4 linked regions of the Homo sapiens genome follow. The protein of the gene in region 4 interacts with the protein of the main gene of each other region in a biochemical or structural test. Each region holds a gene or a part of one and is shown on either strand. Other genes may lie near its edges.

Region 1 (7,651 bases), on a different chromosome or scaffold from region 4:
CTAATTCAAATAAATATTTCACTGAAGGGTCTTTAAGAAATAACTATGGGCTGGGCACGGTGGCTTATGCATGTGGCTCACACCTGTAATCCTAGCACTTTGGGAGACCGAGGTGGGAGGATCAACCTGAGCTCAGGAGTTCGAGACCAGCCTGGCCAACATGGTGAAACTCCATCTCTACTAAAAATACAAAAATTAGCGGGGCGTGGTGGCGGGCACCTGTAATCCCACAGCTACTCAGGAGGCTGAGGCAGGAGAATCACTTGAACCCAGGAGGCGGAGGTTGCAGTGAGCCGAGATCGTGCCACTGCACTCCAACCTGGACGATAGAGCAAAACTCCATCTCAAAAAAAAAAAAAAAAAAAAAACAAAAAACAGACAAACAAAAAGAAATAACTATGATGATCTGAATGAGTGAAATGCAAAACAGATAATCATACATTAATTCGGTGACAACAAACTTTGAGTGCTGCTATGTGCTTGGCATTGTTAAATACTTCACATAGATTTAATTCCACCTTCACCATAAACCCTATAGAAGCAGGTATTATCTCCATTTTACAGATGAGGAAATATGTCAAGAAACTTGCACAAGGTTCTATGATTACTAACTAGAAAAGGTAAGATCTACTCCAGTAATGTCAAATGTACCAAGCTCTACTGTACTGGGGATACAGCAGTGAGCAAGACTGAAACCCTTTCTGACATCAGGGAATTTTAAAACAAACAGAAATCTTTAATCATCTATTTCAAACCCTTAACTACACACAAAAAAAAGAAACTTAAACCCAGAAAAGAAAAGTGACTTGCCCAAGGTCATACTGACGGGTAGTAAGGTCATGAACTAGTCGCCTGACCCTTATACTGCTGCCCTTTCCCCAGCAGTGCGCCAGTGGCAGCACTCCTTTGTGAATTCAGATGACTAGTATCACCAAACAAGAAGCTGTATTTTAGCCTTCCCCAAGCATCACCTAGCTCTAAATGTCAAGCCTAGGCCAGGCACAATGGCTCAGCCTGTAATCCCAGCACTCTGGGAGGCCTAAGGCAGGAGGATCACTTGAGCCCAGGGGTTCGAGACCAGCCTGGATAACAGAATGAGATCCCACCTCTATTTAAAAAAAAAGAAAAGAAAAGAATACATGTCCAAGTCTATGAGATTGTAGCATCTCCTACAGATGATGCAAGAGAAAGAAAGACTCTTCTTTAATTTCCAGAGCCAAATTTAGTTCACACTACTGGCTGAAAGATAAACTACAGCTATCACACTATTTTATTACATTGTTGGTGCTCCTATCTGGTAATAGAAAACAAGTGATTTTATAAACCATGATACTTGTACTATGTGCTCAGTATACTCAAGACCATGTAGGATACGAACATCCCTCTCCTCAAGGAGATGTAAAAAGGAGGGAGTAATAGGGATTTATAGTTAAGAATATGGTGTACATATATGACAGATTTAGATTCAAATCCATGCTCTGACATTTGCTAACTACAAGATCTGGGTAATGTTATTTGTCCTTTTCAAGCTTCAGCTTCTTTATACGTAGGTGAGCATAACACACCAACCTTGAGTAGTTAAAACAGCCAAATGAGGCAACATTACACAGATAAAGTATCAAAATAGAGGGTCTGACACATAGCATGGTTGATGAGGAGTACAAAAATATACAAATAATTACTTATTTCTACCATAACAATAATCTCCAGGGGCCATAAGCCAGCATTTTCAGTGATCATATTTAAGCTCAATCAAGTAAAACAGTTACTTCTTCTATAATAATGTCTTCTTCATAGGCATTATTATAAGATTTCAAGGTTAAAGAATTAAGATATTATCCATTTTTTTTTTTTTGAGACAGTCTCACTGTGTCGCCCAGGCTGGAGTGCAGTGGCGTGATCTCAGTTCGCTGCAACCTCTACCTCCTGGGTTCAAGCGATTATCCTGCCTCAGCCTCCCAAGCAGCTGGGACTACAGGCGCCCACCACCACGCCCAACTAATTTTTGTATTTTCAGTAGAGATGGGGTTTCACTATGTTAGCCAGGCTGGTCTTGAACTCCTGACCTCGTGATCTGCCCACCTCAGCCTCCCAAAGTGCTGGGATTACAGGTGTGACCCACCATGCCTGGCCCATTATCTATTTTCTTAAACAATGAATTATAGATATTTGAGTTGTAGCTCAATAACATCACTATAAAGCTAGGACTTATGATATTACTATGTCATCTCAAATTTGCAGTTAAACTACACCAAAAGCACAAGCAACAAAAGAAAAATATATATAAATTCATCTTCATCAAAATTAGAATATTTTATACTTCAAAGGCCACAACCAAGAGCAGACAGACAACCCACAGAATGGGAGACAGTATCAGCATATCTAACAAGGTTCTAGTATTCAGAATATAAAGAACTCTTACAACTCAATAATAAAAAGACAACCCAATTTAAAAATGGACTAATCCAATTTGTACTCCAGCCTGGGCAACATAGCCAGACCCTGACTCTTTTCTAAAAAATGGGCAAAGGATCTGAATAGACATTTATTTCTCCATAGAAGATATGCAAATGGCCACAAAGCAATGAAAAGATGCTCAACATTGTTAATCACAAGGGACATGCAAATCAAACCCACAATGAAATACCACTTTACACCCACTAGGAAGGCTATAATCAAGACAAATGATATTGGTGAAAATGAGGTGAAACTGGAATCCTCACACACTGCTAGTTGGAATGTAAAATGGTGCAGCCACACTGGAAAGGTCTGGCAGTTCCTCAAAAGGTTAAACATAGTTACTATATGACCCAGTAATTATTCTCCGAGGTATACACCCAACAGAAATGAAAACATATGTCGCCAGGCGCGGTGGCTCACGCCTGTAATCCCGGCACTTTAGGAGGCCGAGGCGGGCAGATCATGAAGTCAGGAGATCGAGACCATCCTGGCTAATACAGTGAAACCCAGTCTCTACTAAAAATACAATAGCCGGGCATGGTGCTGGGTGCCTGTAGCCCCAGCTACTCGGGAGGCTGAGGCAGGAGAATGGTGGGAACCCGGGAGGCGGAGCTTACAGTGAGCCATCACACCACTGCACTCCAGCCGGGGTGACAGAGCGAGACACTTGTACAGCAATGTTTTTAACAGTATTATTCACAACAGCCAAAAAGCTGAAACAGCCCAAATGTCCACCAAATGATGAATGAATAAGCAAATCGTGGTTGGGTGCAGTGGCTCACATCTGTAATCCCAGCACTTTGGGAGGCTGAAGCGGGTAGATCACCTGAGATCAGGAGTTCTAGACCAGCTTGGCCGACATGGTGAAACCCTGTCTCTACTAAAAATACAAAAATCAGGCCAGGCGGTGTGGCTCACGCGTGGAAATCCCAGCACTTTGGGAGGCCAAGACAGGCGGATTATGAGGTCAGGAGTTTGAGACCGGCCTGGCCAATATGGTGAAACCCCATCTCTACTAAAAATACAAAAATTAGCCGGGTGTGGTGGTGCGCGCCTATAGTCCCAGCTACTCGGGAGGCTGAGACAGGAGAACTGCTTGAACCTGGGAGGCGGAGGTTGCAGTGAGCCGAGATCGCGCCACTGCACTCCAGCCTGAGCGACAGAGCAAGATGAGACTCCGTCTCAAAAAAAAAAAAAAAAAAAAAAGACTATACTAAGCAAAAGAGGCCAGTTACAAAAGACCACATACTGTATAATTTCACTGACAGAAAATTTCCAGATTTGGCAAACACACAGACAGAAAGTATATTAGTGGCTGTCAGAGGCGTGTGAGAAATTGGTGGGGGCAAATGAGGGCTGAATGAGGAGTGACTGCTTAATAGGTACAGGGTTTCTTTTTGGAGTGATGAAAATGTTCTAAAATTATACAGTAGTAATAGTTGCACAAACCCGTAAATACACTAAAAGCCACTGAATTAACAGTTGACCCTCAAATAACATGGGTTTAAACTGCACAGATTCACCTGAGAATTTTCTTTCACCTCTGCAACCCTAGATGACAAAACCAACTCTTCCTTTCTCCTCAGCTTATTCAATGTGAAGACAAAGAGGATGAAGACCTTTACGACGACACATTTCCACTTCATGAACAGTAAACATATTTTCTCTCCTTTATTTCTTTTCTTTTCTTTTTTGAGACATTGTCTCGCTCTGTCACCCAGGCTAAGTGCCTATAATCCCAACATTTTGGGAGGCCAAGGCAGGCAGATCACTTGAGTTCAGGAGTTCTAGATCAGCCTGGGCAATATGGTGAAACCCCATCTCTATAAAAAATACCCAAAAAAGGCTGGGCTCAGTGGCTCACGCCTGTAATCCCAGCAATTTGGGAGGCCGAGGCAGGTGAATCACTTGAGGTCAGGATGTGGAGACCAGCCTGAGAAAAATGGTAAAATCCCATCTCTACTAAAAATACAAAATTAGTTGGGTGTGGTGGCACGCACTTGTAGTCCCAGCTACTCGGGAAGCTGAGGTGGGAGAGCTGCTTAAACCCAGGAGGCGGAGGTTGCAGTGAGCCAAGATCATGCCACCACACTCCAGCCTGAGTGACATGACTGCATGAGTTATACTACTACAAAAGTTATACTACTTGACTGCATGCGGGTAGGGAGGGGGGATAGTGTGAGCACCACAACCCTTGCATTGTTCAAGAGTCAACTACACTTTAAGAATGAATTTAATTCTATTTCTCGATAAAGCTGTTATTAAAAATTGTATAGTCATTCTAAATTTTGAATTATGCTAATTAATCTAACTCTGATATAGATATCAAAGTTTTGTTGCAGTTGTTATTTTAACTGAGGTACTTGGAAATGTAAATCAATATTTCAGGTATCCCAGCTCCTACGAAATTCTAACATCTAATTTCAATTTCTCTCCCTGCAATTTAATTCCACTCAACCTTGAGCCTTCAATGAAATAAATAAATAAACCTCAGCACTACCCACAAAATCTCTCCATGAACTTCAAAACTTTATGTCCTTGCCTCACTCCTCCTTCTATAATCTAAATGAATCCTTTACAAAGAAAGGCAACCTCAGATTGTTTTTTAGGCCTTATTACATCCTTTAGGCCCACAATCCTACACTAGAAGCATTTTATATTCACTTAATCCTTACTAAATTATCTCCAGTTTACCATGACGAGAAACATTTTAGTGATGACAAAGAACTTGCCTAAAATCACACAGCTAAAGTTCAGAAAAGTTCAGAAAAGCCAGGATTTGAACCCACATTAGCAGTCAGACTTGGTTACTGACACCGAATCAAAGTGACAAGAAAACAGCTTAAGCAGAAAACAGCTAATACCTAAAAATTTCGAACTACTTTCTGTGGTTCACTGTGGCTTGGTCATGTGCACTTGAGATCAAGTACACATGTGGGACAACATCTTGGGTAGAACTAGGGTCAGGATATTGATCTAGGTAACTAGGGAAACACACCTGCCCCAAAACAGCAAGTTCATACTCTTACTTCCTGATTTTGTATTCACTTAATTGTATCCATGCATGGTTCAAGAGCAGATGCAAGGGTCTTCTAGAGAGACACTGTAGCTTAAGAGAGGAGTACTAGCTTTGGAGCAAAACAGATTTAGATTCACATCTTCACTTGGCCATTCACTAGCTATTTGGCTTAAGACTATTCTAAATACTTAGCATCCTCATTTTCAGAATGAGGATAATACTCATCTTGCAAAGTTGCCTGAGGAATAAATGGGATAAGGTGGGTAAGTATTTAGCAGAATACCTGGCTCAGAGTAATAGCTCAATAAATGGTAAGCTGTTTTTAGTTAAGTGTGACACCTATGGTTTTAGTAAAACAAAATTATTCAGGTAAAGCAGCAGCATGTTAAAATATTTTTTTAAATGATATCTAAATTTGCACTTAAATTTGTCAATTCTGATGACAACTATTACTCTTCAAAGTTAACTTTTTCAGGCTGGGCGCAGTGGCTCACATCTGTAATCCCAGCACTCTGGGAGGCCAGGACGGGCAGATCACCTGAGATCAGGAGTTCAAGACCAGCCTGGCCAATACGTTGAAATCCCATCTCTACTAAAAATACGAAAATTAGCCAGGCATGGTGGTGCACACCTGTAGTCCCAGCTTCTAGGGAGGCTGAGGCAAGAGAATCGCTTGAACTGGGGAGGCGGAGGTTGCAGTGAGCCGAGATTGCACCACTGCACTCTAGCCTGGGTAACAGAGTGACACTGTCTCAAAAAAAAAAAAAAAAAGTTAACTTTTTCATAATATAAAACATTAAAAAAGCTGAGAGAAAAATCTGAAAACTACCGAAAAAAAGAGAAACACATATACCATAATTCTACAACCCCTAAAACACATTTTGTTGAATTACTGAACACTTAAAAAGCCATCTGTAGGCTGATGATGCAGTTGGGGAAAAGAGGAGTGTCATTCTGACCATTTCTCTTTCTCTGTATTTCATCAGCCTGTTTGAATTTCCAGAGGACAGGCAGGGAAAATGCTGGGGAAAACAAAAGTACAAGAGCCAGTCAGTTTTACCTTTCTTTTTGGGAGGCAAGTTTTCATACTGGAAAAGTTTTGAACTACCTGAAAACTTAGATTTGAGAAGAAAACTTAGATTTGAGGATTATTTGTGGAGTTTATTCTCATTCTCTTCCAGACTCATTACAAAAGATCTGAAAATTTGTTGACGATTTGAGAACTGCAGATAAATATGAATTTATCTTCTCCACACCTGCCCACTAAAAAATTACTTAGAAACATTATTACAAGGAAAGAAACAAAATCAAGCAAACATCTAATGCATTAGATGATTAAAGGATACATATTACAGCCTAAGTTGGAGAGAACATTACCCAACAAATGGCTTTTTTTCCCTGGGAGCTTCTACTGTGCAAGTCTGGGGATCTCCAGACCAGAGAAAAATCTTCCAGTTTAAACAAAATAACGAAAATGTTCCAATAACCAGATAACCTATCAAATAACCAGAATTTGAAGTGGGAAATGAAGGGCCATATCAATGGGGAGGAAAAATGGCACTGGTAATATCTAGAACAGAAAATAAACAGGAAATACTTTAAAAGGCCAAAATTTGCAAATACAGATTAACAGGGTATGAAATGAAATACGAGGCAATGCACCTGTTAAAGGAAAAAGGGGAACAGAGGATGTTTGAAGTCTTACGTATTTAGTGTTAACACTAATTCCTGATCTAGCTGTCATGTGGAAAGCATGCTGTCCAGAAGAAAACCTGGGTCCTGGCTTATTCCAAACTACACAGTACTTAATTTAAGTAGTAGTACTTAATCTCTCTCAGTGTCTTAATCTGTAAAATGGATACCCTTTATGTACTCACAGCTCTGTGTGAGTCACAAAAGAATTTTGAGCAGATGCTTTTTAACTCCAAAGTGCTGTACAAATCAGAGCATCCCTTTTCTCTTCACATTAGTTTGACATGGAATTTACTTCATAGATGGAAGAAAAATTATTTCAGGTACACTGATGATGAAAATGTGCCGAACGTGGTTAAACAAATTTAGGTGAGGACAATTATATAAGTTTACCTGAGAGGCCAGGCGCAGTGGCCTCACGCCTGTAATCCCAGCACTTTGGGAGGCTGAGGTGGGCGGATCACCTGAGGTCAGGAGTTC
Region 2 (7,651 bases), on a different chromosome or scaffold from region 4:
TTTTGTATTTTTAGTAGAGATGGGGTTTCACCATGTTGGCCAGGGTGGTCTCAATCTCTTGACCTTGTTATCCGCCCACCTCAGCCTCCCAAAGTGCTGGGATTACAGGCGTGAGCCACCATGCCTGGCTGTTAAGATTTTTATATGTAATACTATGGATCAGGAAAGAAGGTTTTCCTCAGGATATTTTTTTTCTTTCTTTCATCCATATTGATGTTAGCAGTTAGCATTATTTTGTAAACTATTGTGTAATATTCCAACACACGGGTATGATGTAATTCATTTAATTCCCATATTGATATTTCCTAAATAGTGCTGGTCTTCGATATACATATTTATACACTTCTGTAAGTAGGATATGTTCTTTTTTATGTTCAGGGGTACATGTGCAGGTTTGCTATAAAGGTAAATTACATGTCTTGGGGGTTTGGTGTAAGATTATTTCATCATGCAGGTAATAAGCACAGTACCTGATAGGTGGTTTTTCCATCCTCACCCTGCTCCCACCCTCCACCCTAATGTAGGCCCCAATATCTGTTGTTTCCTTATGTCCACCATTTCTGGTTCAGAGTGTGTATATTTTAAATTTTGACGACTGTTTTAAAATTGTCACTCCAAAACATTAAACCAGTTTGCATTCCCACTGTGTGAGAGAGCCTGTCTCCCAGTATCCTCCCTAGCCCTGGACACTTTTTAGTAGTTTTTCACAATTGAAAAACTGGTATTTTAGTGTTTTGATTTGCATTCCCTTAGCTTCGAGTGAAGTTGGATATTTATATTGTTCTGTAAATTTCTTGTTTGTGACATTTGCCCATTTTTTAAGTATTGAGCTATTTGTATTTTTCTTATTACTTAATAGAAAGTTTAATGTATTGTGGATATTAACACTTTACCTATAATATCACATATGCTGCAGATATTATTTTCCCAGTTTTTCATTTGATTTTATGTTGGTTTTGTTTTCTTTTTATAATGTAGATTTTTTAAAGTGTTGGGCAGGGAGGATCTTATCTTTTCCTATAAGGTTACTAGTTTTCTGACAGGCTTAAGACAGGTCTTTCCCCACTCTAAAGTTAGCCAGTTTCTTTTATAGTTTTTCAAGGTTTCTTCCTGATTGGTTCAGCAGCTTCACAATATGATGTGGTTACAATCTAACCGTTTCCTTATTGACAGATATTTAGGTTATCTCTTTTTTAAAAATTATTGTGGACAATATGACTGTGAACATCCCTATCTGAACAATTTTGTAGGATTATTTTCTACTAGAAGTAGAAATAATTGTCATGGGAGTGCCATAATTTTATTTTCACTGGTGATTATAGTCGATTTTTATTCAGTTATGTGTGTGTACAAGATATGTGGTGAACATGTTTTACTTTGTTCTTAAGTTTACTTGTGTTATAGCAATATGTAAGGAAGCTTAGCTTTCATTTTCATTGAAACTCTCCTTTATAGATTTGAACAAAATTCACTTTTATTGGCTCTGCACATTTTCTAGATAAATCATATTTGTGTTGTTTTTAAAGTATGCATTTGTACTGTGTCTTTTATTAAGAATAACTATAATTCATTTTCTACAGATTTCAAATGGTAATGTTTTTTAAGAAAAGTTTTAGGAAAATTTTCCTATTCCTCTAACATGTTTGTAGGAAAAACATTAGTCCTTATCTTATAAGTAGAAACACATTTGCTGTTAATCATTAAATGACACCTTATATCCTTAGATTTGCAGGAAAGCATATCCAGAATCCATCGAACAATTGAATTAATGTACTCTGACAAATCTATGATACAAGTAAGTGAAATTTTGAGCTAGTAATCATTGTCAAAATTATTTACATATATTTTAATTTACCTTTACATTATCTTAATCTAATTTTTCTTTACATGTTTTGTTTTAAAATTTTGGCAAATCTTATTGTAAAATAATAAGGGCTTGCAATATGTACAATGTGACAGTTCATCTGAATGGGGAAACTTTTATAACAAATTTATAACAAAATTCATGACAAGTTTTCCCCATTCAGTTGTATTTTCACACCGTATGTGTTGTGTACCCTTACTATTTTACAGTAAAATCTACCAAAGTTTTTCAAAAGGCTATAGCATCTTTAAAAAGTCTTATGGGAGAAAATCTATGGTTGTTAAAGGATATTAAGATTTGGGAAGAAACTTAAGGACTCCATTACATTTTAACTTCTGGTGTATATCATATAATCTATTTTGTTAACCGTCAATTTAGAATTCTGAAGATGTAGACACATTTGCTATATGTAAAACTGCCCACTATAAGCTTTTTATTCAAATAAACAATTAGGCCAATGAGTATGTACACAATAAATACATTTTTAGTTTTTCAAAAATCATCTTTTTAATCTATCAACTTTGCATATCTTTAGCTTATTCAGATTCCGTCTTTTTAAAGTTTTATAGTTTAGTTTTTTTCAAACTTTTAAGCCCAGCCAGTTCTCTCTCATTTAAAAAAAAAAATGCTCTTATGGTTTTCTCCAAACAGGTTGTTTGTGGGTTTCATGGAATGTGGTATATAGTAAACTACATAATTGCAGTTTAACTCTTCTTTTTTTCACATTTAGGTTCCTTATCGATTACATGCCGTTTTAGTTCACGAAGGCCAAGCTAATGCTGGGCACTACTGGGCATATATTTTTGATCATCGTGAAAGCAGATGGATGAAGTACAATGATATTGCTGTGACAAAATCATCATGGGAAGAGCTAGTGAGGGACTCTTTTGGTGGTTATAGAAATGCCAGTGCATACTGTTTAATGTACATAAATGATAAGGCACAGTTCCTAATACAAGGTAAGAATATATAGGGTGGTGTGTATTTTTAAATAGTCATAAAAGTGGCTCTGGTATGTGGTGTGATTAGTTAAGTGTAATTCACTCAGACGATGAAGGATGTGGTTAGGAAATGCTACTGGGTTTTGACAAGACTGAATTGAAAAGTAATGTCGTCAGGGCTAAGAATTCGTATATATTTTGTATTCCAAGTCAACTATTAAAGGTAAATATGACCTTTTTCGTCCTTGCTAAAAATGCTTTAGTGACTGTTCCACAGATTGACTCACATTTAATATTTAATTCCTTAGCCTAACATATATGGCCTCTGTTCTTGGCCTCTGATTATCTCCCCACCTTCATTGATCACCAGTGTTCCTTTTGAATTTATATCCTTACTGAACTTCTTGCTGTATCTGCTCATATCAAACCATTTCACACATTTATGTTTGCATGTTCGTATATGTTTTATTTTTTGCTAGTAATTCTTTTGCCTAATTCTTGTTTATCTGTCAAGATTCAATTCAGGTGTCATTTCCCCTGCAAACTATTTCTTGATCTGCCAAAAAGTATCTCTCCTTATGCTGTCCTGGCATCTGTCTACTGGGCATTTACTGTTGTGTATTGGAACTGTGTGATGACTTGTCTTGCACATTTCTCTCTTATCTGCTCAGAGCCAGAGATCATGTCATACTATGTCTGAATCTTTTTAATGCTGATATTCTGATATATGCTTTGCATATAGAAAATAATAAAGGTTTATTGAAACTGATAAAAATAATCTTTTTATATTTAGTCATTCAGAATCAGCTAGGCAGTCCACTTCTGACTAAAAAAATGAAGTTATTTTTCTGTGTGTGTAGTAGAAGTTCAGTAATTCTTCTGAATACTCTATTGTTTTTAAGATCTTGCTATATTAATTTTCATAATTGCATATTTAAGTCTACTTAATTTCTTCATATGACAAACAATTTTCATTTTATTTTGAGCTAATAAGGTTAACATGATTATGAGTTGTTTACATTTTGTGAAAAGTTTTACTTTTTAAGTGATCAAACATCTGGTATTTTCCAATAGTGGCAGAAGTAGTATTACATCACTGTTAGAGTAGCAAAGAAAAAAAAAAATGGCCGGGCGCGGTGGCTTATGCCTGTAATCCCAGCACTTTGGGAGGCCAAGGTGGGCAGATCATGAGGTCAGGAGATCGAGACCATCCTGGCTAACACAGTGAAACCCCATTCTACTAAAAATACAAAAAAATTAGCCGGGCTTGGTGGTGGGCACCTGTAGTCTCAGCTACCCGGGAGGCTGAGGCGGGAGAATCGTCTGAACCCGGAAGGCGGAGGTTGCAGTGAGCCGAGATTGTGTCACTGCACTCCAGCCTGAGTGACAGCATGACACTCTGTCTCAAAAAAACAAACAACAACAGCAACAAAAAACTTGGCTTTGGCTTTGTATTTTCTGTCACTTCTACTCTTAAGATAAAAAAAAATCTGAGACCATTACCTATGATGGATTATCAAATATTTTCATCATTGTTTTTCTGAGCATTTGTTTGAGTTTTAAAAAGTTTTGTAGATAATAATTATTTGCTAAGCAATAGTAATTCTTAAGTAATATGATTGGCTGAGTGGTAATAATTCATAGTTTAAATTCTATTTGAAATGCAGTCTATTTTGAGCTTTGCATTTTCCCTTTAATTCTTAATTTTATACTAGTTTTTGAAATATGATTTGCAGAGGAGTTTAATAAAGAAACTGGGCAGCCCCTTGTTGGTATAGAAACATTACCACCGGATTTGAGAGATTTTGTTGAGGAAGACAACCAACGATTTGAAAAAGAACTAGAAGAATGGGATGCACAACTTGCCCAGAAAGCTTTGCAGGAAAAGCTTTTAGCGTCTCAGAAATTGAGAGAGTCAGAGACTTCTGTGACAACAGGTTTGTCCATTTTTATTAAGTTGTGTTTGATTATCAATATTATTTTTATAATAAGATATGCTCATTATTAAAAAGTTTTAGCTATCTTAAAGTGTGAGGAAATCAGTAGAAATCATTTCAAATTCCATCACTCAGATTATCACAGTTAACAATTTAGTTTACCTTTTTGCCAGACACCACTGTATATATTTATATGTTTTTCAAGATAAATGAGATAATTCTGTTGACTTTCCCTCTACCTACTCTGCCTGTGTTGGGTGGGCTTGAATTTTCTTGGCAAGTAGCAGAGAAAGCTGTGAAATCAGCAAGAAACCCAAACCAATTCACTAAAGCTATCAAGAGTATCAATTCAATAAAGCTATCAAGAGTATCAATTCAATAAAGCTATCAAGAGTAGTAATTTTAAATTTGGCCAAAATAATACTACCGGTATATTCATATATACTTTGTGCAATAGTAAAATACTACCATTAATAACTATTTGATGTTTTTCGGAATTCTTAAGATTAAGAGAAAATTGACCAAAACTATTTAGTATATCACAGGTAAAAAGTAAGTGTATAGACCTGTAAACCAAAGATATAAATGCATAAACATATAAATATTTAAAAACATTATTCTGAAATGAACTATTAGCTGATGAAATCAATAAGTCAAAGTAAACACTGTATAGGAATTAAGAAAATAGTTTCTAGTAAAATTGAAAATATATTGTCTTTTTATTTTCTTAAAAGATTACTCTTCACTGAGTTGCAAATATGTTTTAGGGCAACATGTTTTCTGGTATAGAAAATGCTATTTCTCAGAGAAGCTATAAATTAAGCGCATATATTTTCCTCAAACTCATTTGTCTCTTTTTATAACTGCTAGTGGATATTATTGAATAACTTTTTTTTTTTGCAAGATCTGCATGTTTTGTGTTTTAAGGAAGTAGTTCCAGCTTTTGTTTGTTTAATTTCATCTTTCGCAGACAGAGGTTTCCTTGCAGCATTACCTGGTTGGGCTTCAGCATTATCATTTGAACTTTAGAAGGAATTATTACTTCAATAGAAGATTGTTTTACAGTGCTACAATGTAGTATTGTGACTGTCGCAGGCATGCACAAATCTGTCCAGATACTTAACTTATTTTCATGTAGATCAAATAATTGTCGTTGATTTTGATCCTGAGAGGCAGATAATTCAGCATTTTTTAAAAAGATAATGGTATCACAGCAACATTTGGATACTACAGTGCTATGGAGAATACCACCATTATAGTGGCTGGTGAACTCTACCATTATGTAGGGCTGCACTTTTCCCCCACGTGTACAAGGCTACCGCGTAGAGCAGGTGAAGCTATGTGGGTCCACAACAATGTAGTTTTTAGTAGATGTCAAGAGGTATCTAAGCTCAAATCACAGTGTAGTAACTATATTATAGTTCCTTTCATTTTTAAAACATTTCTGTCCCTTTGTGATTTCATGCTTTGCATTCTGTACATATTCTTTCCAAATCACTCCTCAGAACCTGCCCCAAGATGGAGCTACTGTGTTATTGTTCCCTTAACATTTACTTATTCCATTCACATGTGACTATTCTTGTTATTAGTGGGAGGAAGGGGCTGCATAGTGTACTATAAGCAGTTGTGGTACCTAAGCTCCCAGACACAGGTGAATCCTCCATTCATTGGTTAAGCTCCAGTTTTATTCTTGGCTCACCTATATTTTGTGATACCAAAATATTAAGTTCTATATATCCTCCTCCTCTTCATCCTGTCTGTTTCTCATCTCTCCAAATTTTCAGAGTTAACATATTTTATTTCTGCTTAGTCAAACGAATACATATTTCCAACTAATATTCCTATCTATTAAGGACTAGCCTTGCCCCATCCTCATTTTACATTTGTCATCTTTTTTCTTTCTCTGTGAAAAGACCATGTGTGCATAACTGCATCCATTTTCATGATCAATACATCTGACCATACACTTTACATGGTGTTTTGTAATTTTTAAAAAATGCAGTACTAGGTATTGGACATATATTTTCATGTCTGTTTTTACCATGCAAAATAATCTTAGAATGTTGATATATTTCTGGGAGGAACCAGAATAAAAGATGAAGAGATGGAAATGGTCAATTCCTATTCCTAGATAACTTTTATAGTTACCTTTCAGCGTGGGTTATTTAGAAAGCAGTGGTAATACTACTTCTGTAGGAAACATTGTATCCTCCATAGACTTGACGGAAATATGCACTTGGTTTGAATTAGTAGAAGTAGAACATGCCAAGTCCATAAATTTACAGAGTGAGATTGTTGTTTAAAAGATTGGTTTCTATTACTGTTATCTTTGAGATTATATTAAGAAATTTGTTCTCTGTTGCAGGATAGTTTCACATATCATAATTGAATAAGACTAATGTTTCATTAGAACCATTTATTCCCTATTATTAATAGGGAAATTTTATTTTAATGTCCATGCCATCCTCTTCTGATTCTTCTCATGGTTTTCAAAGTAAGTAATTTAATTTGGTATAATACTTCCAGGATCTCAAAGCAAATCTGTATTTTAATCTCTCAGGTGTTCACTAGTATTACCAGTGACTAGTGGAAATAATAAAAGGAAATCTTGTTCATAAAATCCAACAGAATGATTTTTTTCCTCCCTGCAAAATCTTCTCGTTAAAGCTGAAACATAAGACCTCATAAAATTCAATTTCTACTGAGTGATATTCCAATTAAGAGTACTAATTCATATTATATTAATCAAATTAGTATTTGTTCCTCTTCTGCTAAAATGTGATCGAGAAATTCATGCGTATCAGTTCACCAGCACCATTCGTTCCCTACTGAGATAATAAATGATGGGAAAGTATTTTTTGGTTCATTTCATGCTGCTTCCCTAGATCTGCTTACTGCAAAGGCAAACT
Region 3 (7,651 bases), on a different chromosome or scaffold from region 4:
CCCTCTGTCTACAAATAATAAAATAAAATAAAAAATTAGCCCAACATGGTGGTACATGTCTTTAATCCCAGCTACCGGGGAGACTGAGGCTGGAGGATTGCTTGAGCCCAGAAGTTTAAAGTTTCAGTGAGCTATGGTCGTGCCACTGTGCTCCAGCCTAAGTGGCAGAGCAAGACCTTGTCTCTAACATAAAATAATAAAATGGACAGGCTAGATGATTTTAAAAATTTATGATAAAGGGGTTAACAGCAATATAAAAAGTCTAAAACTGTCTCATAAAGCAAAACTGAACTCTGTGCTGCATACTAGAAATATACGTAGAACAGTAATTCAAAAAGTATTATAATAAAGGGAGGGAGAGATTATTTAATGGAAACAATAAGAAATCAGAGGCTGCAGTCCTGATACCCAGTAAAGTAGAACTTAGGTCAGAAATTTGTATATTAGGCCAGAAACCTGTATATTTTTCCTTCCAGTTCTGTCAGTTTTTACTTTATGTATTTTATAGCTTTGTTTTTGGCACATACACATTTAGGATTATATTAATTAAATCTTAATGAATCGACCTCCCTATTGTTATGAAATGCCCCTTTTTATCCCTGATAATATTTTTCTGAAGTCTGCTGTGTCTTATATTAATAGTGACTCCACATTTTTATGATTAGATCATCCAGTCTAAATTGATGGTTGAAGTATTTAGACCATTAACATTTTTCACAATTATGGATAAGGCTGAGTTTAAGTCTACCATCTTGCTAATTGTCTTCTATTTGTTCCATCTGTCCTTGGTTACTTTTTTCTCTTTTCTTTCTTTCCTTTGTGTTCATTTTATCTCCATTATTGCCTCCCACCCCACATCATTTATACTGTTATCATACATTTTACTGCTTTTTCTTTTTCTTTTTCTTTTTTGAGATGGAGTTTTGCTCTCGTTGCCCAGGCTGGAGTGCAACGGTGCGATCTCGGCTCACTGCAGCCTCCGCCTCCCGGGTTCAAGCAATTCTTCTGCCTCAGCCTCCAGAGTAGCTGGGATTATAGGCATGTGCTACCACGCCCTGCTGATTTTATATTTTTAGTAGAGACGAGGTTTCTCCATATTGGTCAGGCTGGTCTCGAACTCCTGACCTCAGGTGATCTGCCCGCCTCGGCCTCCAAAGTGCTGGGATTACAGGCGTGAGCCACCGCGCCCAGCCCATTTTACTTCTATGTATGTTATACATCCCACAATACGTAGTTAGGATTTTTTTACAGCCTTAAAAATTCACGTACCGTGTAGTTACCTATTTAAAGTGTATTATTTGGTGTTATTGTTTTAAACAGTCCAGTGTATTTAAAGAAATTAAAAGATGAGACAGAAATGTATTTTGTATTTTCCCACATGATTTCCTGTTTTAAGTGCTCTTCTTTTGTGTAGATCTGAGTTTCTGTCTGGTATCATTTTTCCTTCTGCATGAAGAATGTCGCTTTAACATTTCTTACAGTGCGTGTCTCTTGGCAGCAAGTATTCTCAGATTTTGTTTGTCAGAAAAAGGATTTTGCTTTTAATTTTAAAAGATATTTCCATTGGATCTAGAAATCTAGCTTATATAGAACTCTAACGTGATAATGTGTTTCTTTCAGTATTTTAAAGATATCTTTTCTTTGTCTTCTTTTTTGTATAATTTCTGACTAGAAGCCTACGGTCTTAATCTTGTTTTAGTCTTAACTTTACAATTATGTACCTTGTTTCCCTAGTTCTTGCATATTCAAAATTTTTTCTCTAGCTTGGATATTTGAAAAATAGTTTGGCTGGATGTAAAATCCTTGGGTCATGCTTTCTTTCCTTGGGTTTCTTATAATGCTACTTTACTGTTACCTTGCTTTGTATTTGCTTTTCAGAAATAAGATGCCAGTCTAATTCTTCTGCCCTTGTAAGTGATTTAATCTTCCTCCTTGAAGGCACTGAGACAGTTTTTCTCTGACTGCTTTTCAAGATTTTCTCTTCGTTGCTAATTTTTAGCAGTTTTATTTTGGTGGGCTTCATTTTGATTTGTGTTTATCTCACTTGGGATTTGTTGAGCTTCTTGGATCTGTGGGTTTCTAGTTTTTATCAGATTTTGAACGTTTTTATATATTGATTTTTTCAGATTTTTTTTCTGACTCTTCTCTCTGGATTCCAGTTATATTTGATATAAATATAATTGTATTTGATATCGTCCCACAGGTTTAGTGGGAATCTATTCTGTTGCTGTCTTTTCAAGTTCAGATATTTCCTTCTACAGTGTCTAATATGCTATTAATCGCATCAAGTGAAATTTTCATTTTAAATATTGTGATTTTCATCTCTAGAAGTTTAATTTGGGTCTTTAAAAAATCTTTCACTTCTCTCATTATGTTTATGATTTCCTTTCCATTCTTGATCGTGTAGAGCATATTTTAAGTAGTTGTTTTAATATTCTTGTCTGCAGTAGTTTTGATTGTTTTGAGTCTCCTGTTTAAGTTCTTCTTTTTCATTTCTGTTTTTTTTCTTCTTTCTCAGCTGTGTGATCTGCTTAAGTTCTTTTTGAATATAGAGTATCCTTTACTCTAAGGCTAATTTGCTTCCTTTCCTAAAGCATAGTTCCTTTGGAGTCTCTGTTAACACTCTGTGAATTCATCTAGGTCTCTCTACTCTGACTGGTGTAAATTCGAACTGGTGGAATTTTAGTCCCTGTGTGAGTTCTGGGAGTTGTTTGGCCAGTAGCTCCATAGTAAACATTCTTTTCCTTGAAGTTGTTCTTGATTAGTGTCAAGAAGACTGAGTTTCACTCTGCATACACAGGTTGGTATTCAGCCAAATATTCAAGCAGACTGCTATGCAGATTTCTGGAGCTTTTCCTTTGTTCAGTTCCTTCCTCTCAAGTACTCTGTCCCAGAAATCTCAGCAACCTCAGCTTTTCGAACTCATTTCTCTCAGCTCAACTTGGTAAGATTTCTAGGCTCTGTTTGGGTGCTCCCTGAATTGCAGTTCACAAATTGCCTCCAGACAGAAAATCTGGGTAATAGTAGGACTCACATCATTTATTTTCCTTCTCTTATGGATCACTGTTTTGTGCTGCCTATTGTCTAGTATCTGAAAATAGCTGTTTTCTCTATTTTGTCCAGTTTTCTCATTGTTTATAGTAGGAAGGTAATTCCAGACTCTCAAACTTCCTCATAGGCAGAAGCAGAAGCAGTAGTTCTCTCAGGTACTCAAAATTGACATCACCCATGGGCAACACAGGAATATCATGTATTCCTGGATGTGATGCCCTTAGAAGGATACAGTGTCCACCAGACATGTGGCTCACACCTATAATCTCAACACTTTGGGAGGTCAAGGCAGGCAGATTGCTTGAGCCCAGGAGTTCAAAACCAGCCTTGGTAACATGACAAAATTCTGTCTCTACAAAAAAATACAAAATTAGCCTGGCATGGTGGTGCGCATTTGTAACCCCAGCTACTCAGGAAGCTGAGGTGGGAGGATCATCTGAGTCCGGGGGGGTCGAGGTTGCAGGGAGCCAAGATTGTGCCACTGTGCTCCAGCCTGGGCAACAGAATGAGACCCTCTCAAAAAAAAAAAAAAAAAGATTGGATGTGAGGGCGATCTGACTGTGACATCTGTCACCCCGTTGTTCACCAGGGTTGATTTGGCTGATCTGACTGGCTAGGCGGGTATCCCCTTCCTCCCTCACCACTCCATGTGTGTCTGTCGCAAACCTGCGTGCTCAGTCAAAGAGGATGACCATCCCCAATAGAGGAGGACTGGTCTTCAGCCAAGAGTATACGAGTAGCTGCACTCCCCTGCTAGAAACTCCAAACAAGCTCTCAAAAAAAAAAAAAAGGCATGACATGGTATCACTGTTTGTTCATGTGCTCTTCCAGTTTAGGCTGAATCTCATCATGAGGAAATAGCAAACCCAGTATGAGGGATGTTCTATTAAAAATAAGGCTAGGTCAGGTGAAGTGCCTCACACCTGTAATCCCAGCACTCTGGGAGGCTGAGGCAGGTGAATCACTTGAGGTCAGGAGTTCGAGAGCAGCCTGGCCAACATGGGGAAACGCCGTCTCTATTAAAAATACAGGCTGGGCACGGTGGCTCATGCCTGTAATCCCAACACTTTGGGAGGCAAAGGCGGGCAGATCAGGAGTTCAAGACAAACCTGATCAACATGATGAAACCTCTACTAAAAATACAAAAAAATTAGCCAGGCCTGGTGGTGCACACCTGTAATCCCAGCTACTCAGGAGGCTCAGGCAGGAGAATTGCTTGAACCTGGGAGATGGAAGTTGCTGTAAGCCGAGATGACACCACTGCACTCCAGCCTGGGCAACAGAGCAAGGCTCCGTCTCAAAATAAATAAATAAATAAATAAATGAATACAAACATTAGCTGCGTGTGGTGGCACACGCCTGTCACCCTAGTTATTTGGGAGGCTGAGGCATGAGACTTGCTTGAACCCGGGAGGCAGAGGTTGTAGTGAACTGAGATCACGCCACTACACTCCATCCTGGGCAACAGAGCAAGACTCTGTCTAAAAAAAGAAAAAACGAAAAAAACAGGCTGGGTGCAGTGGCTCACGCCTGTAATCCCAACACTTTGGGAGGCCAAGGAAGGAGGATTGCTTGAGCCCTGGAGTTCAATACCAGCCTAGGCAACATAGTGAGATCCATCTCTACAAAAATTAAAAAATTACCCAGGCATAGTGGCACACATTGTAGTGGGGAAGCTGAGGTGGGAGGATTGCTCGAGCCCGGGAGGTTGAGGCTGCAGTACGTTGTCATCACACCACTGCACTCCAGCCAGGACAACAGAGCAAGACCCTGTCTCAAAAACAAAAATAAAACAACCCAGGGTAGGGAGAACTGTATTCTTCAAAAATGTCAGTGTCATGTAAGAGAAAGCTGAGGACTTACTCCAGATTAAAGAAAACTAAAGAGACATACATGAAAACAGCATGTGATCCTGGACTGAATCTTGTACCTAAGTGAGGGAAGAAAAGCTATAAAGAACCTTCTTGGATCTGTTGACAAAATTGAATTAAGAAACGTATATTAGATAGAATATTGTATCAGTGTTACATTTACTGATGCTGATAATTGTACTCTGATTATTTATAAGAATGGTCTTATGAAATATACACTAAAGTATTTAGAACTAAAGGGGTTTAATAAATGCAACTTACTCTGAAATGGTTTCAGAAAAATATATAGAGAGAGGGATATTAAGTGATGAAGTGCACATTACAGAAGTATAACAGTTGGTGAATCCAGGTAAAGATTTTTGCATCTCTTCTGGAAGTCTAAATTTATTTCTAAATTAAAAGGTTTTTTTTTGTTGTTTTTTGTTTTTTTAAAAAACATAGTCTTGCTCTGTTGCCCAGGCTTGAGTGCAGTGGCGTGATCTCAGCTTACTGCAAGCTCCGCCTCCCGGGTTCAAGCAATTCTCTTGCTTCAGCCTCCCAAGTAGCTGGGACTACAGGCGCATGCCTCCACGCCTGGCTAATTTTTTGTATTTTTAGTAGAGACAGGGTTTCACCGTGTTAGCCAGGATGGTTTCCACCTCCTGACCTTGTGATCCACCCGCCTTGGCCTCCCAAAGTGCTGGGATTATAGGCATGAGCCACTGCACCCGGCATAAAAAGTTTTTAAAATATATTTGTACTTAGGAAAAAGATTTGGCAGTACCTAAACACATATATTCTATGACCCAGTAATTCCTTTTCTGAGCATTCATTTTCAGAGAAATGAATAAGTTATATTTAAATGAAAAAATAAATTATAAGTAAGAATGAAAAGCACTTTAGTTAAGCCCCCAGTCATGTTTAGCATTAATTTTGAAAATGTATACTTTTCCATTAGATCAAACTAAGTTATTATTTATTTATTTATTTTATTTATTTTGAGACAGAGTCTCACTCTGTTGCTGAGGCTGGAGTGCAATGGCACAATCTTGGCTCACTGCAACCTCTGCCTCCTGGGTTCAAGCGATTCTCGTGCCTCAGCCTGCAAGTAGCTGCGATTACAGGCGCATACCACCATGCCTGGCTAATTTTTGTGTTTTTAGTAGAGACAGTGTTCCACTATATTGGCCAGGCTGGTCTCAAACTACTGACCTCAAGTGATCTGCCTGCCTCGGCCTCCCAAAGTGCTTGGATTACAGGCATGAGCCACTGCGCCTGGCCTATTATTATAATGTCATAATGCAGTAGTTCTCAAAGTAGAGTCCCCAGACCAGCAGCATCAACGTGATCTAGTAACTTGTTAGAAATGGACATTTTTGTGCCTTCTTTTTTTGGACACATTTGTGTCCAAACCTACTGAATCAGAAACCTTGGGGTTAGGGTGTAGTAATATGTAGTTTAACAAGCCCTCCAGGTGATTCTGAAACATAAAGTGGAGAACTCCTACTATACTGAACATACTTTAGGAATTCCTGTTGCCTTCTAAAGCACTATTTCTTTAATTTTCAGCTTCTCCAATTTGGGAAATACCTGCTATATGAATGCTATTCTACAATCTCTATTTTCACTCCAGTCATTTGCAAATGACTTGCTTAAACAAGGTATCCCATGGAAGAAAATTCCACTCAATGCACTTATCAGGTAATCATTATGTACTGTACTTACTGAGTAACCTTTTACTTCATTGATTATAGAATAATGGAATTTTAGACACTCAAAAATTTTCTGTGCCATTATTAGTAATTATTCTTTAAAATATCACGCCATGTCATGTAAAACGTGCTAACTTTGTGTTTTTTGTTTTACTAGACGCTTTGCACACTTGCTTGTTAAAAAAGATATCTGTAATTCAGAGACCAAAAAGGATTTACTCAAGAAGGTTAAAAATGCCATTTCAGCTACAGCAGAGAGATTCTCTGGTTATATGCAGAATGTGAGTATTAATTGTTTTAAAACGTTTCAGAGGCCTGACACGGTGGCTCACGTCTGTAATTCCAGCACTTTGGGAGGCCTAGGTGGGCAGGTCACCTGAGGTCACTGAGGTCAGGAGTTTGAGACCAGCCTGGCCAACATGGCGAAACCCTGTGTCTACTAAAAATACAAAAATTAGCCAGGCGTGGTGGCATGCGCCTGTAATCCCAGCTTCTCGGGAGCCTGAGGCAGGAGAATTGCTTGAACCCGGGAGGCAGAGGTTGTAGTGAGCCAAGATCATACCACTGCACTATAGCCTGGGTGACAGAGCAAGACTCCATCTCAAAAAATAAATAAATAAATATTTATAAAAATAAATAAAATAGGCCAGGTGCGGTGGCTCACGCCTATAATCCCAGCACTTTGGGAGGCCACGGTGGGTGGATCATGAGGTCAGGAGTTTGAGACCAGCCTGGCCAACATGGTGAAACCCTGTCTCTACTAAAGATTAAAAAAAATTAGCCGGGCATGGTGGCACATGCCTGTAATCCCAGCTACTCAGGAAGCTGAGGCCGGAGAATCTCTTGAACCTGGGAGGCAGAGGTTGCAGTGAGCTGAGATCGCACCATTGCACTCCAACCTGGGCTACAGGGCAAGACTCTGTCTCAAAAAAATAAAAATAAAACAAATAAATAACGTGTAAGAAATCATGGAAATTGACATGATTTTAGTGTGTTTCTTGATTTTTATTTTAAAACGAGATTTGTGTATGTGTGTTC
Region 4 (7,651 bases):
TAAGTAAAATGAAAATGATGAAATGAATACCATGGGATTTACAATAATCAGTCTCTGGATCAATATCTTAGTAGTGGTTGGTTTTTACATATGTGTATAATAATGATACCTTATGACATATGTAGTAGGGAAGAATCGATAGTAAGATAACTTAGTCTTAAATTATCAACTAAATTTACTATTGTATATTTAAAGTGGGCTTAATTAAAATCCATTTATATTTTAGAATTTTTCCAAGAACATTTTTGCAATTCTTCAATCTGTAAAAGCCAGAGAAGAAGGGCGTGCACCTGAACAGCGACCTGCCCCAAATGCAGCACCTGTGGTAAGAATGCTTTACTGCTTTACAGTAGATTTAATGAAGTTGCCACTTATATTGCAGTGTAGTAACGTTGAAGACATCTTCACATTTTAAAATCAGTGGATTCTAAACCTTTTGCTCCTTTAGCATATCTGAAAGATGTGAAAGCCCTCCCCAACATTAAAAGTTACTTACTTCAGCAGTAATTCTTAACTGGAGCAGTAATTCTTAATATACCTGGGTCAGAGTCTGAAAAAGGTTAATTAGGGAAAGCCCTCTATTTATTTTAGGTAAACTGTGGCTGGCCTACTCATTGTTGCTTGGGACAATTGCTAACCATTGTTAATAACATAAATCCCTGTTAACTCCCAGTTTGGGGTTCTTTTTGGCATTGTATCTATTACATCTTGGTGAATGTATTTCTCTTGATCACCAGCCATGCTGTCCTTTAATTGTACCTCCATTTCAGCTGCTCTGAGAGTTGACTGCCTTCTCTTTGAAGTGCCACTTAAGACCCTCCCAAAGTAAATTTCACGTATGACATATAGCCTATATTTAAATTCAAACATCCTCTAATTTTGTTGAAAATCCTTCCAGCTATTTTCATATGATTCAACAAAGGAATAAAACATACAAATGAAATTGTTTCTATTTTCTGCAATAGAAAATAGAAGATTCTATAAATAGAAAATTTATAATTTTTTTTTTTTTTTTTTTTTTTTTTGAGACAGTCTCACTCTGTTGCCCAGGCTGGAGTCAGTGGCACGATCTTGGCTCACTGCAACCTCCGCCTCCTGGGTTCAAGCGATTCTTCTGCCTCAGCCTCCCAAGTAGCCAGGATTACAGGCGCATGCCACCCCACCCAGCTAATTTTTGTATTTTTAGTAGAGATGGGGTTTCGTCCTGTTCAAGACCAGGCCGGTCTTGAACTTCTGACCTCAGGTGATCTGCCCACCTCGGCCTTCCAGAAAACCTTCTATATTTTTAAAACTCTGTTTCAAGTTTTAAAAGGCACATTGAAATGTATTAGAGTACTAATACAGCCTTTGCAACTACTTTGTAGTAGTTTTATTTGCTCATGAAATTGTTGGAATTTAACTTTTAAAGATGGTAGGCTTTTGTTGATAATTAGATAAATACTTTTAGTTGACTCTCCATCAAGTACTTAAGTGCCTTCTATTAGGAAGTCTGCTAATGATCTTGAGATACAATAGTGAGAAAGATTATAGTCCCTACTTTCTTTGAGCTTATAGTCTAATACAGCAGTCCCCAACCTTTTTGGCACCAGGGACCAGTTTCGTAGAAGACAGTTTTTTCATGGACCAGGGGGAGGTTTTTGGAATGAAACTGTTCCACCTCAGATCCTCAGGGTTTAGTTAGATTCTCAAACGACCATGTAACCTAGATCTCTCAGCAGTTCCCTACTTATTAGATGTTTTTTTTTTTTTAAAGTAGTGGAGTAAGAGCTATGATGGCAAAGCACAAGGTACTTAGAATTATGAATTTGTTGACATTTTGAATAGCTGTTGATAGGAAACATGTCAAACCTTAAAACAGTTTTACCATTTGTGACTGATTATTCTTTCTGTATATTTATATAATCGTTAGAATACTTGAAGGTTTTAATGTTTGGCATTTGACTATAGAAGTATATGCCTAGTGTGAAGTAAGCATATACTTATCATTCTTGATAGGTATTGATAAGTATATTTTATTTGGCATAATATTTGATATAGAATCCTATCATAATAAAATGAAAAGTATTTCAGTCTTCATGAATTTTCCAAGTAGCTTTGGGAATATTCCTAAATATGTGTTTTTAGTTTGTTAAACATTGTGAGTTTTGATAAAGTATTTGTGATTAAATAATGCATCATTAGACTGACAGCCTTTTCTAATTATTTAAAAAAAATACGTCTTCAGTCTTACTCTGTTTATAATGGATTAATCATCATGGCTTTCATGTTTATTTAAGGATTAATAATTTGGGTTTTTTTGTTTTGTTAAAACAATCATAATTGCAGGGAAGAGTATTATGTCGTAAAGGTACTTTAGCCAGGTATGGTGGCTCATGCCTGTAATCTTAGCACTTTGCGAGACTGAGGTCGATCACCTGAGGCTGGGATTCAAAACCAGCTTGAGCAGCATGGTGAAACTTTGTCTTTATAAAAAAAAAAAAATTAGCTGAGTGTGGTGGTGCATGCCTGTGGTCCCAGCTACTTGGAAGGCTGAGGTGGGAGGATCACTTGGGCCCAGGAGGTCTTGGCTGCAGTGAGCCATGGTCATGCTACTGCACTCCAGCACATTAAATAAGTGACATTTAAAAATATTAACAAGTAACTCATAATTAATTTTTTTACAGGATCCCACTTTGCGCACCAAACAGCCTATCCCAGCTGCCTATAACAGATACGATCAGGAAAGATTCAAAGGAAAAGAAGGCAAGTTGCTTAATTCTTATCTTCCCCTTAGTGTGGTTGTGTTGAACTTGAGAGGCAGTGTGGCCTGATGTTTAAGGGTAAGGGTTGGCAAAGTAATGTCTACAGACCAGATCTTACCCACTGCAATTTTTCTTAAATAACATTTTGTTGGGACACAACCACACTCATTCATTTATGTATTTTATATATGGCTGCTTTGGCTTTGTGACATCAGTATTGAATTGTTTCAGTAGAGACTGTGTAGCCTACAAAGCCTAAAAATATTATCTGGCCCTTTACAGAAAAAAAGTTGGCCAACCCCTGGTTAATAGCATGGATTCTGGATCCAGATAGCTTATGTCGTAGTAACTTTTTGTGTGAATTTTAATGTTACTTTAACTGCATTCTGCCTTAGTTTTCTCCTGTGTATAATTAAAATGTTATTATAGTGCCTGTCTCTTACCATTATTGTGAGTATTGGACTGGTTAATAAATATTGAATTCCCAGAATAGTATCTGATATGTAAGTAAATTATCTATAAATGTTTGCTGTTATTCATACTGCTTTTGTTTTTATATAATTTAAAGTAGAGATTCTATATGTTAAGTCATTTTTCCCAAGTTATAAATGTGTATGTACATTGAGAACTTGGAAACAAATTTTGAGCAATGATGGGAGGACTTACTTTGTGATAGTCTACGTGGTATTCTGGCTAATGCAATAACACCATTTCTGCAGTTGTGAGGTGAGACTAATGTCAGTGTAACTTCCTCTTGGGATCTTCATTCATCATGACTTGATTCATGAAAATATTAGGTAGAAGCAACTGGAAGTTAATGATATTTTTAAGCATAATCTGAAATCTTCATTTAAGTTTTTTTTAAATGATATGTTGCCTTGATGCAATGAATTTTGTGTGCTGACTTCATTCAGTTGTTAAAGGCATGCACTGGATATGTGCCATAGAAAGACTACGTCCATTCTTTCATTATAATATTCAATGTTTTTCTTGAGGAATGAATTATATAAAGCAGAGGTTGATAAATTACAGCCCCCAAACTAAATATCACCCTCCATGGGCCAAATTGGGTTGCCCCCAATTGATCACATATATTGTTTATTCTGCTTTTGCACTAAAATACAGAATTGGGCAGTTGTGACAGATTTTAAGGCTTGCAATGTGTTAAAATATTTGCCTTTACAGAAAGGCATATTGGGATTCTGTCCTGGCACTCCAATCATTATTTACAACATTGCTTTCTATAAAATATGTAATATGGTTGATTGCTGTAGCTCACACCTGTAATCCCAGCACTTTTGGAGGTGGAGGCAGGAGGATTGCTTGAGTTCAGTACTTTGTGACCAGCCTGAGCAACATGGCAAAACCGCATCTCTACTAAAAATACAAAAAAATACCTGGGTGTGGTGGTGCATGCCAGTGGTCCTAGCTACTCGGGAGGCTGAGGTGGGAGGATTGCTTGAACCTGTGGAGGGGGGATGGGAGAAGAGGTTGCAGTGAACTGCAGTGCCACTGTACTCCAGCCTAGGTGACAGAGTGAGACCCTGTCTCAAAAGAAAAAATATATATGTATGTATGTATATAAAAATAAGTATATGCCTTATGACTGAAACTTTGGAACACTACTTTTTATAACTTTGGGTCTTTTCATGGTATTAGATGCTTTTAGTGGTACTATCATTGAGTATTAGTAGTAAGTAATTTGGGGTTATAAAGTATTCAATCTTAATTTTTGAACATAATTGCAGAGATAGTCTTAACCAGCTTCTATACAATAGGCTTGCTGGTCTGTATTTAATATATTAATATTTTTTAACCTAGAGTCCTTTTTAAAGTTTTTATCTTCACAAGTACGTAATTTAATTTTACATAGTAGATTCAAGGCTTTGTATATTATTGAACCATCACATTCAATGTAGATTATTACTTTAGATTTGTTATAGGTCATAAGATACATGATCTATAAAATCTTAACAATAAGCCTCTTTTTTTTCGTAGAAACGGAAGGCTTCAAAATTGACACTATGGGAACCTACCATGGTATGACACTGAAATCTGTAACGGTAAGTTAATTTGGCTGTAGATGTTCTTTTGTTCCAGGGATTTTATGTGAGTAGCACATGTTGAAGTAAATCTTTAGTCTCTCATATTTTTTATTTCAAACATTTTTCTTTATTGATCACTTGTGCTGATTGATCTGTGTGGTGTATTATTTGATTCATGGGTATCCTGTTTCATTTTTCTTTTCCTTCAAATTAAGTTGAATATATGTAAATAAAAGCTGATTTGATTAACTTGCAAGTAGGGCAATGCCACCTGGTCAGTATTTAAAGCCTTTAAGTTATGAGGTCAGTTTGGGAGAGCTTTTTCGCATAATATCTTTTGTTTTTATTTTTATTTATTTATTTATTTTTTTGAGACAGAGTCTCGCTCTGTCGCCCAGGCTGGAGTGCAGTGGTGCGATCTCGGCTCACTGCAACCTCCGCCTCCCGGGTTCACGCCATTCTCCTGCCTCAGCCTCTGCGAGTAGCTGGGACTACAGGTGCCCACCACCATGCCCAGCTAATTTTCTTGTATTTTTAGTAGAGACGGGGTTTCGCTGTGGTCTGGATCTCCTGACCTCGTGATCGCCCGCCTCAGCCTCCTGAAGTGCTGGGATTACAAGTGTGAGCCACCGTGCCCAGCCTTGTTTTTAACAATGTAATGTCTTTCGCTCTTTAAAGAGATGGATTATAGTGATTATAATGCTTACAAAGTATGTAATTAACAGAACTAAATACTTGGGTATCTGTGAATATAAGCCTTTGGTTCATGTTTAGCAAACTTTCTTTTTTTAACCTAAAAATGGTTATTTCTATATATTCTGACCAAGCCATATTTAACATTTTAAATTTTTATTTAATGATCGGACTTGGTGATGTAGAACAGGAATTCTGTTAACCTCATTTTGCATATTTATATTCTAGACCATTCTACCTTTTATACTTTTATTTATATTCTAGATTATTATACTTTTAAAATACTATGCATGTGTATTAAATAGAGTATACTTAAGACACTAATACCAAACTTTTGTCTTTGCTTGTGAATCATCAGATCTTTACGGACTCTATATAACATGGAATCATTATATATGTGCTGTGGTTTCTCAGAATTAACATATAACTTTATATCTACGTGGGCTTTTACGTGTTTTACTCACTCATTTCCAAAAGCAAATAGCAAGTATAGAGATCTGATTTTAAGTTTGTTTTTTTCTGGACTTCAAATTGGGATTGGATATCAGATATTTTGTTAATATACTTGTTTTTAAATTGTCATCAGATTTGTTTTTGTATTATTAAATTATGTGTAGATTAATGAATTCATTCAACAAGTACTTATTGAGCATTTGTGTCAGATCCTGTTCTTGTTGCTGGTCATACAGCTGTGAATAAGACAGATGAGCCTTGTTTAGAGAGAGAAGTCAGAGATACTTCTCTCAGGAGGTAACAGTTGAGCAGAGAGACTTGGATAGCATTCCTCTACGTCAAGGCAGGGATCAAGACTGAGGTCCAGTAGAGCAACAGCAAGGAGGCCAGTGTTGCTAGAGTTTGGAGAACTAAGGGAAAAGTCATCAGGGATTAGATACTCCCATCTTATGCGATCTGCCTGGTTCTTCCTGACTTCAATATATAATTCATGGCTGAAGATTTAGTTTAAATTCTTATGTGATTTGGTTATTGACATCTTGGGAACAGAACTTGCCTACTAATCATTTCCCTAAGTGCGACAGAACTTGCCCGCTGATCATTCCCTGAGTGAATTAGTCGTAGAATGAAGTTGTTACCCTTGGGGAGCCATCAAAGTAAGTTTTTTGTTATTTTTGTGATTGTTGTTTTTACTTTTCTCATCCATCCCTGTACCTCTGAAATGCCATGAAATGGTTTTATTATCTGAGCTTCTTTGCAAGTAGTAAAATCTGTGATGGGTTTTACAGTGATGCTTTGTACAGAGCAGTTTTTCTAAAATTTAAGGATAGCTTCTTTATTGATCAGTATGAGAATGATGTGATTCTGCGGCATCATCAGAGACTGTTCTAAATATACTGAAAGAGGTGAATTTAAGCAATATACTGAAGTATACTGAAAAGAGAGGTGAACTTAAGCAAATTTATGCTGTGTGATTTTTAAAGAATAGTCATGAAAAAGGCATTGTGTAGGAATGCAACAGAAAGACTAAAAATGGTTAAATTGCTGATAGTTATATTAATACCCAGTTTGAATCTCTGTGTTGCTTGTGATCTGATTTATGCAGTTGTTAGAATTAATACATAGAGAAATTTGAACTTGAAAGCTTTGAAGTTCTCAGATAATTATTTTTTAGTTGTGTCTCAGACTTACGTTTTCAATTTAATATTTTTTTCTCTTCTTTTCTGCTTTGGAATTACTACCTATTTGTGAGCTTGTGAGTTGCACCAACTTTCTACCTTATTCTCCAGTCAAGAAAGTTTCTCCTTTATAATATCCACCCAGACATACAGTGATGTTAAATGTATGTTAAAAGGCTTTGCTGCCCAGATGTAACTTCCTTCCTAATTTATGTATAGTTCATTTTTGCAGCCATTGTTCTCCAAGGTTTTGATATGCCTGGTTGATGTACATAGTTAATAAAATTAGGATCAGTCTATGTATCTTTTAAGTTAAACATCAGATTTCTGTTATATGCAAGACTAAATTATGCAGACGGCTAGAATATTTTTATACAGATAATTTCCTATATATATATGTTGTAGAGAAGGATATGTTTTGATAATCACATTTCATAAGAATCATGGGTTAGTGAAAGTTTTTATAGAAGTAAAGGCCCCAGGGAGAGTGCTTTGATAATATTTTATGAAAGTAAGAATTATTCAAACTTATAGCAACAGA

The links.
Region 1: the proteins of CDC73 (region 4) and TCEA1 form a complex in vitro, tested with the Homo sapiens proteins (one study listed by BioGRID).
Region 2: the proteins of CDC73 (region 4) and USP25 form a complex in vitro, tested with the Homo sapiens proteins (one study listed by BioGRID).
Region 3: the proteins of CDC73 (region 4) and USP37 form a complex in vitro, tested with the Homo sapiens proteins (one study listed by BioGRID).

The regions. Positions count from the first base shown.
Region 1 is NC_000008.11:54,013,335-54,020,985, forward strand, and holds part of TCEA1 (transcription elongation factor A protein 1), read right to left. Parts: intron 1-7,651.
Region 2 is NC_000021.9:15,828,807-15,836,457, forward strand, and holds part of USP25 (ubiquitin carboxyl-terminal hydrolase 25), read left to right. Parts: intron 1-1,724; coding exon 1,725-1,795; intron 1,796-2,594; coding exon 2,595-2,823; intron 2,824-4,520; coding exon of another isoform or gene 4,521-4,534; exon of another isoform or gene 4,535-4,541; coding exon 4,542-4,742; intron 4,743-7,651. UniProt on the Homo sapiens protein: Deubiquitinating enzyme that hydrolyzes ubiquitin moieties conjugated to substrates and thus, functions in various biological processes including inflammation and immune response.
Region 3 is NC_000002.12:218,496,977-218,504,627, reverse strand, and holds part of USP37 (ubiquitin carboxyl-terminal hydrolase 37), read left to right. Parts: intron 1-6,470; coding exon 6,471-6,602; intron 6,603-6,770; coding exon 6,771-6,894; intron 6,895-7,651. UniProt on the Homo sapiens protein: Deubiquitinase that plays a role in different processes including cell cycle regulation, DNA replication or DNA damage response.
Region 4 is NC_000001.11:193,147,641-193,155,291, forward strand, and holds part of CDC73 (parafibromin), read left to right. Parts: intron 1-226; coding exon 227-325; intron 326-2,663; coding exon 2,664-2,742; intron 2,743-4,739; coding exon 4,740-4,804; intron 4,805-7,651.